Homo sapiens: one gene and its partner. The protein of the gene in region 1 interacts with the protein of each later gene in a biochemical or structural test. Each region holds a gene or a part of one and is shown on either strand. Other genes may lie near its edges.

Region 1 (3,452 bases):
GTATGGTGGTGCACACCTGTAATCCCTGGGCAACAGAGTGAGACTCTATTTCAAGAAAAAAAAGTGTGATCTGCCTAGGTTGGAGTGCAGTGGCACAATAGTTGTTTATGCAGCCTTGACCTCCCGGACTCAAGTGATCCTCCCTCCTGTCTCCCTAGTAGCTGGGACTATAGGTATGGGCCCCACGCCTAGCTAATCTTTTAACATTTTTTGTAGAGACAAGGTCTCAGTATGTTTCCGGGGTTGTTCTTGAACTCCTGACATCAAGTGATTCTCCTACCTTGGCCTCCCAAAGTGCTGGGATTACAGTTGTGAGTCACCACACCTGGCCTGGAATCTGCATTTTTTATAAGACCCCTGGATAATTTCTTATGTGCATGAGAGCATAGGGTTGGGGGACTGAGTTTCGCTCTTGTCACCCAGGCTGGAGTGCAGTGGTGCGATCTCAGCTCACTGCAACCTCTGCCTCCCGGGTTCAAGAGATTCTCCTGCCTCAGCCTCCTGCGTAGCTGGGATTACAGGTGCCTGCCAACACGCCCAGCTAATTTTTGTTATTTTTAGTAGAGATGGGGTTTCACCATGTTGGCCAGGCTGGTCTTGAACTCCTGACCTCAGGTGATCCACCTGCCTTGGCCTCCACTGCACCTGACCTGGGGAGCTCTTAAGAATACTAATACCGGCCAGGCGCGGTGGCTCACGCCTGTAATCCCAGCACTTTGGGAGGCTGAGGCGGGCAGATCACAAGGTCAGGAGATCAAGACCATCCTGGCTAACATGGTGAAACACCATCTCTACTAAAAATACAAAAAATTAGCCAGGCGTGTTGGCGGGTGCCTGTAGTCCCAGCTACTCGGGAGGCTGAGGCAGGAGAATGGTGTGAACCCGGGAGGCAGAGCTTGCAGTGAGCCGAGATCGCGCCACTGCACTCCAGCCTGGGCAACAGAGCGAGACTGTTTCAAAAAAAAAAAAAAAAGAAAAGAAAGAAAAAGAAGAATACTAATGCCTTGGCTCTATACCCAGAATTTTTTTTTCCTTTTCCTTTTTTTTTTTTTTTTTTTTCCAGAGACAGGGTCTTACTCTGTCACCCAGAATGAAGTGCAGTGGTGTGATCCTAGCTCACTACAGTGCAGAACTCCTGGGCTCAAGGGATCCTCTCTAGTATTTGAGACTATAGTTGTGTGCCCACTTCCAGTGAATTTTTAAACATTTTTTAAAAGTGTTTATTATTATTTTATTATCTTTATTTTTGAGATTTATTTTTGTAATTCCAAAGCGCTGGGATTATGGGTGTAAGCCACCGCGCCCGGCCACCTAGGCTGGTCTTGAACTCCTGGCCTCCTCAAGTGATCCTCCCATCACAGCCTCCTGAGTAGCTGGGATTAGAGGCACTAGCCACTGCCCCAGCTATCCCCAGAAATTCTAATTTAGTTTGGCATCAATATAGTTTTAAGAGTATTCCAGATGATTTATAATGTGCAGTCAGGCATCGTCTTAAGAAAAAGAGGCATCATCAGACAGGGTGTATGCCAAAAAAAAAAAAAAAAAAGAAAAGATAATCGAATAATCTGCAGAGGGTGGTGTTTGGAGACTGGCAGCTGGGTCCCCTCTGGAGTGGCCCTGGGGAGTGACGCACAGAGGCAGCGTCCCAGAGCCATTTTGGCCCACTGCATTAATGCCCTCACCCCCTCCTGCAGGGTTGTGCAATAGCAAAGCAGCTGGGTGCAGAAATCTACCTGGAAGGCTCAGCTTTCACCTCAGAAAAGAGCATCCACAGCATCTTTCGGACGGCATCCATGCTGTGTCTGAACAAGCCTAGCCCACTGCCCCAGAAGAGCCCTGTCCGAAGCCTCTCCAAACGACTGCTCCACCTCCCCAGTCGCTCTGAACTCATCTCTTCTACCTTCAAGAAGGAAAAGGCCAAAAGCTGTTCCATTATGTGAAGTGGAAATTGGAGGGGGGAGACAACCCCCTACTTCCTCCCTTGGGGTGCAGAGGCACGGGGAGAGGGAGGATGAGACAATTTAGGACACTGGACATGAGTTTTTCAGATGGCCACGGTGAGGGCTTGGAAGGAGACAGGAATGGGGCGAGGAAGGAGCCAGGCCCGGCATGAGGACCTGACGCTGAGAGAGAACCATCATACCCCAAGCCAGGCACTAGATTTTGGAGGGGGCGACTACCCCAGTGCCCCCCCCGCTCCAGAGGAAGGAAAGCTGTGGGGGACGGGGGGCATGCTGGCCTCATGGGCTTGGGGGCCTACAGCAGCCTCACCTTCAGCTTCATGCCTCTTCCACACAGCGTTTCCATGCAGGTCAGGGGATGGGAGGGGTCCCTGAGCCCTTCCCTTCCCCTCTAAGGAGGCAGCAACGGAGAGTGGGGAAGTGGAGCGGCAGCTCCCTTGGGGGCTTAGCCCAGGTGCTTCGTAACTGCAATCGGAAGTGCAGGAGCTGGTCAGAGCCAATGAGAAGGAAACCTCATCTTTGCATAGCCCATGCCTCATGGAGAGGTGACATCATACATTCACATGCTTCTCACCTAAGTCCCCAGGGTCCAAGGGAGAAGCCCCAGACCCCCTTCTCTTGCAGAGTGTGGGGGTGGTGGTGCTGCAGGGGCAGGGCTGGGTGGGGGTCACCAGACTTTTTCTGCCCTTAGGGTAGTACAGCTGGCATTTGTTTTATAGACTCTTGTCTTTGGAATTGGGGGGAGGGGGGGAGTGTTTCAATCTGTTATATGTTCTGTGTTTAATGAAGAAAACCTATTTATTAATGAAAAATATAATACATATAAAGAATTTGGCTCCGTATTTTTTTCTGTTTTCTTTAGTTGTTACAATTGGTATTTTTTTTTTTTGGTCTTTTTTTTTTTTCCTTTTTGTGGAGAACAGGGTCTCGCTATATTGCTCAGGCAGGTCTCAAACTCCTGGGCTCAAGCTATCCTCACATCTCTGCCTCCCTAAGAGCTGGGATTACAGGCATGAGCCACCGTGCTTGAGCCCTTTGGTTGATGATAATGAGAGAAAAGCTGTCCTGGGACCCTTTCTGTGGGTTGCAGAGGGGCTGCCTCCACCATTCCCCAGCTCCTCCAAGAAGGAGCTTCTCTCTTCCCCCATCCCCCTGCCCTAGCCCCACCCAAGACCTACTAAACCAAGGAAGGGCTCCTTAGCCCGAGAGCAGGGGTGCAGGGGTTCTCAACCCTGGAACTATTGACATTTTGGACTGGATAATGCTTTGTTGTGAGGGACTGTCCTATGCAGCCCAAGATGTTTAGCAGTGTCCCTGATCTGGTGGATGCTAGAAGACAGCACCCCACTCTCCAGCTATCACACCCAAAAATGTCTCCAGACGTTGCTAAATGGCCCCTGTGGAAAAATTCTGGTTGAGAACCACTGCCCTGGAGAGTCTAGAGGAGAGAAAAAGGTTGGATGAAATCATCAGTAGAGGATCCAAGCTGCT
Region 2 (3,424 bases), on another chromosome or scaffold:
AGTGTTTGGAGAACAGGCTGGGGGCTGGGATTGCAGGTTCTCCCAGGTCTCAGCCCGGCCAAAGGGGTCTGCTGGGTTCCTGCGGAGAAGGTGCCAGCCCCACCTCCACCTCTAGTGCTCGTCTTTGCCTGCTGTCCTGTCTTTACTTGTCTTGAGTGTCTGTGCAGCCCCTATAAGTGATAAGACATGGGTGAGATTGGCCTTGCCTGGGGGTACCAGGTGCCCTCAGACAAATGGGTGGATAGGACAGGTGCACAGTAATGGATGATGCGGCCCCCGCACAGTGCTGAGAGAGAGTCATTCAGTCTGAATGTGGAAGGCCAGGAAGGCTTCTCAGAGGAGGTGGCTCTAGCACTGGGGCTTCAGGAAAGAGTTGGGCAGGAGGATGGCCTGGGGAGGGTACGCAAGGTTTGGGGGCTGCTGGGGCCAGGACCCCTACCCCAGGCCCTGCTCTCCCCCTTGCACTGCAGCGGAGCCCGCTCTCCTGCCTTTCTGACTCCCATCCTTCCCCACCTCCTTCTCCCCTCTGCATCACTCATCACTTGGGCAGGCCAAACCTCGCCAAGTATGAACAGGCTCTGGCAACTGGGTCTGGCAACAAAGTGCTGGAAAAACCCGGGGCACAGCCCAGCGCAGTGAGTGCCCCACACGTGGAGGCAAAGGAGTGGGCCTTTGCCCTGACCCTGAGGGCTGAGCCTGAGAGTCTGTGGGTTGTGAAATCTGTTGTGACCACCAGGCTTGTGGTGGGTGGACCCTCAGCTCTTCCTGTGAGCAACTTTGTGCTAAAGAAAGAGCACTGGAGCCGGGCGTGGTGGCTTACGCCTGTAATCCCAGCACTTTGGGAGGCCAAGGCGGGCGGATCAGGAGTTCAAGACCAGCCTGGCCAACATGGTGAAACCCTGTCTCTACTAAAAATACAAAAATTAGACGGGCGTGGTGGTGGGCACCTGTAATCCCAGTTACTCGGGAGGTTAAGGCACGAGAATTACTTGAACCCAGGAGGTGGAGGTTGCAGTGAGTGGAGATGACGCCGCTGCAAAAAAAAAAAAAAAAAAGGAGAAAAAAAACAGAAAGAGCACTGGACTTGGAGTCTAAACACAGGTTCTACTCCCGACTCACCTGTGACTGAGGGCAAGAATGCTTTCTTCTCAGAGACTCGGTGTCCCCTTTTGTAAAATGAGGCTCATTCTGTCCTTCCCCAAGGGCTTCAGGGAAACTCCAGTTAGAGCAGTGAGGTGCTAGGTAAACTCTGAGGGGCACCCTAACCGCCGTGTGAGGTCAGGAGGTCTGAATTCTCTCATCCCCTCTCCCCAGGACAAGGGCACACAACTGGTTCCGTTAAGCCCCTCTCTTGCTCAGACGCCATGGAGCTGGATCTGTCTCCACCTCATCTTAGCAGCTCTCCGGAAGACCTTTGCCCAGCCCCTGGGACCCCTCCTGGGACTCCCCGGCCCCCTGATACCCCTCTGCCTGAGGAGGTAAAGAGGTCCCAGCCTCTCCTCATCCCAACCACCGGCAGGTACGATGGGGCGTGGGGCTTGGGGGAGGTCAGTGCTGGATAATACACAGAGGCTTGCAGGCCACTGCTCCCTTCCCCACACCTCTCTCCCTTTTTCTTCTTGCCACAGGAAACTTCGAGAGGAGGAGAGGCGTGCCACCTCCCTCCCCTCTATCCCCAACCCCTTCCCTGAGCTCTGCAGTCCTCCCTCACAGAGCCCAATTCTCGGGGGCCCCTCCAGTGCAAGGGGGCTGCTCCCCCGCGATGCCAGCCGCCCCCATGTGAGTTGTCCCTCAGAAGGGAAGGGAGGGATGCACGGGTTCTGGGTCTGTGGGAGATACACAGCCGCTTCCATGGAGGCAGGGGATCTTGGTTAGGAGTCCCTGAGGGTCTAGCAGGTGCGGAAAGGGAATGAATCACCCTTTGCCTCCCCTCAAGTCGTGTGCAATTCCTGGGGCGCAGGTAGTAAAGGTGTACAGTGAGGATGGGGCCTGCAGGTCTGTGGAGGTGGCAGCAGGTGCCACAGCTCGCCACGTGTGTGAAATGCTGGTGCAGCGAGCTCACGCCTTGAGCGACGAGACCTGGGGGCTGGTGGAGTGCCACCCCCACCTAGCACTGGGTAAGTCAGGTGCATGGAACTATCCGGGCTGGGAGATGATGCCTTGCATCTTGGGCTAGGCATGTGGCTCATCCAGGAGATCTGGTTGATCTCCAATAACCCCTGCTTTTTGCCCTTGTCCCCAGAGCGGGGTTTGGAGGACCACGAGTCCGTGGTGGAAGTGCAGGCTGCCTGGCCCGTGGGCGGAGATAGCCGCTTCGTCTTCCGGAAAAACTTCGCCAAGTACGAACTGTTCAAGAGCTCCCCAGTGAGTGCATGAGGGCTGTCTGGGCGCTGGGATGCCCTGATCCTCAACCTGGATGCTGGAGCCCTGATCCCTGACACTTGTCTACCCACAGCACTCCCTGTTCCCAGAAAAAATGGTCTCCAGCTGTCTCGATGCACACACTGGTATATCCCATGAAGACCTCATCCAGGTGGGGGGACCCCCCATTTCACTGCAGATTCACGACTCCCCAGCATTGGCCAGTGCTTCTCCACCCTTAAGTCCTGTGCCTCCCCTCTATGTTGTAGAAAGAGCCAAATCACAGTCCTGTGTGACTGGGGACAGTCACTTTCCCTGCCTGAGCATCAGTTTCTTCTATTAAATGGGGGCGAGAAATGCATGTGGAGCATTTCCTTGTAAAAACCTGAGGGTGGGCTGGGCACGGTGGCTCATGCCTATAATCCCAGCACTTTGGGAGGCTGAGGCGGGAGGATTACTTAAGCCTAGAAGTTTGAGAGTTTGAGACCAGCCTGGGCAACATAATGAGACCTCGTCTCTCCAAAAAAAAAAAAAAAAAAAAAAAAAAGGCCAGGAATGGTGGCATGAGCCTGTAGTCCCAGGTGCTTGGGAGGCTGAGGTGGGAGGATCACTTGAGCTCGGGAGGTCGAGGTTGCAGTGAGCTGTGATCGTGCCACCGCACTAGCATGAGACCCTGTCTCAAAAAGAAAAAGAAAAAGAGAAACATCCTGGTGGTAGAGGGGAAGGGAGGAGGTCAGACCTGTCACTCTCCTCTGCTCTCCTCTGGCTCAGAACTTCCTGAATGCTGGCAGCTTTCCTGAGATCCAGGGCTTTCTGCAGCTGCGGGGTTCAGGACGGAAGCTTTGGAAACGCTTTTTCTGCTTCTTGCGCCGATCTGGCCTCTATTACTCCACCAAGGGCACCTCTAAGGTAAGGTCTTGAGGGTACCAGCCCCAGCCCCTCCAGTCCCTGGTCCTTTTAGAAGTTGCCCCTTCTCTGCTGGAACCTCTGAGCCCTTCTCCCCCTGGGCCCCCCAGGCCAGCCACCTCCAGTTTACCATCTCTCCCTACATCCTTGCCTAGCT

The links. Proteins that work in one complex are often made in the same cells at the same time.
Region 2: the proteins of RND1 (region 1) and GRB7 form a complex in vitro, tested with the Homo sapiens proteins (one study listed by BioGRID).

What each region holds. Positions count from the first base shown.
Region 1 is NC_000012.12:48,856,484-48,859,935, reverse strand, and holds the end of RND1 (rho-related GTP-binding protein Rho6 precursor), read left to right. Parts: intron 1-1,694; coding exon 1,695-1,940; 3' UTR 1,941-2,791; downstream 2,792-3,452. UniProt on the Homo sapiens protein: Lacks intrinsic GTPase activity. Has a low affinity for GDP, and constitutively binds GTP. Controls rearrangements of the actin cytoskeleton. Induces the Rac-dependent neuritic process formation in part by disruption of the cortical actin filaments.
Region 2 is NC_000017.11:39,740,938-39,744,361, forward strand, and holds part of GRB7 (growth factor receptor-bound protein 7), read left to right. Parts: intron 1-1,314; coding exon of another isoform or gene 1,315-1,364; coding exon 1,365-1,519; intron 1,520-1,628; coding exon 1,629-1,779; intron 1,780-1,960; coding exon 1,961-2,117; intron 2,118-2,242; coding exon 2,243-2,364; intron 2,365-2,455; coding exon 2,456-2,533; intron 2,534-3,132; coding exon 3,133-3,270; intron 3,271-3,424. UniProt on the Homo sapiens protein: Adapter protein that interacts with the cytoplasmic domain of numerous receptor kinases and modulates down-stream signaling. Promotes activation of down-stream protein kinases, including STAT3, AKT1, MAPK1 and/or MAPK3. Promotes activation of HRAS.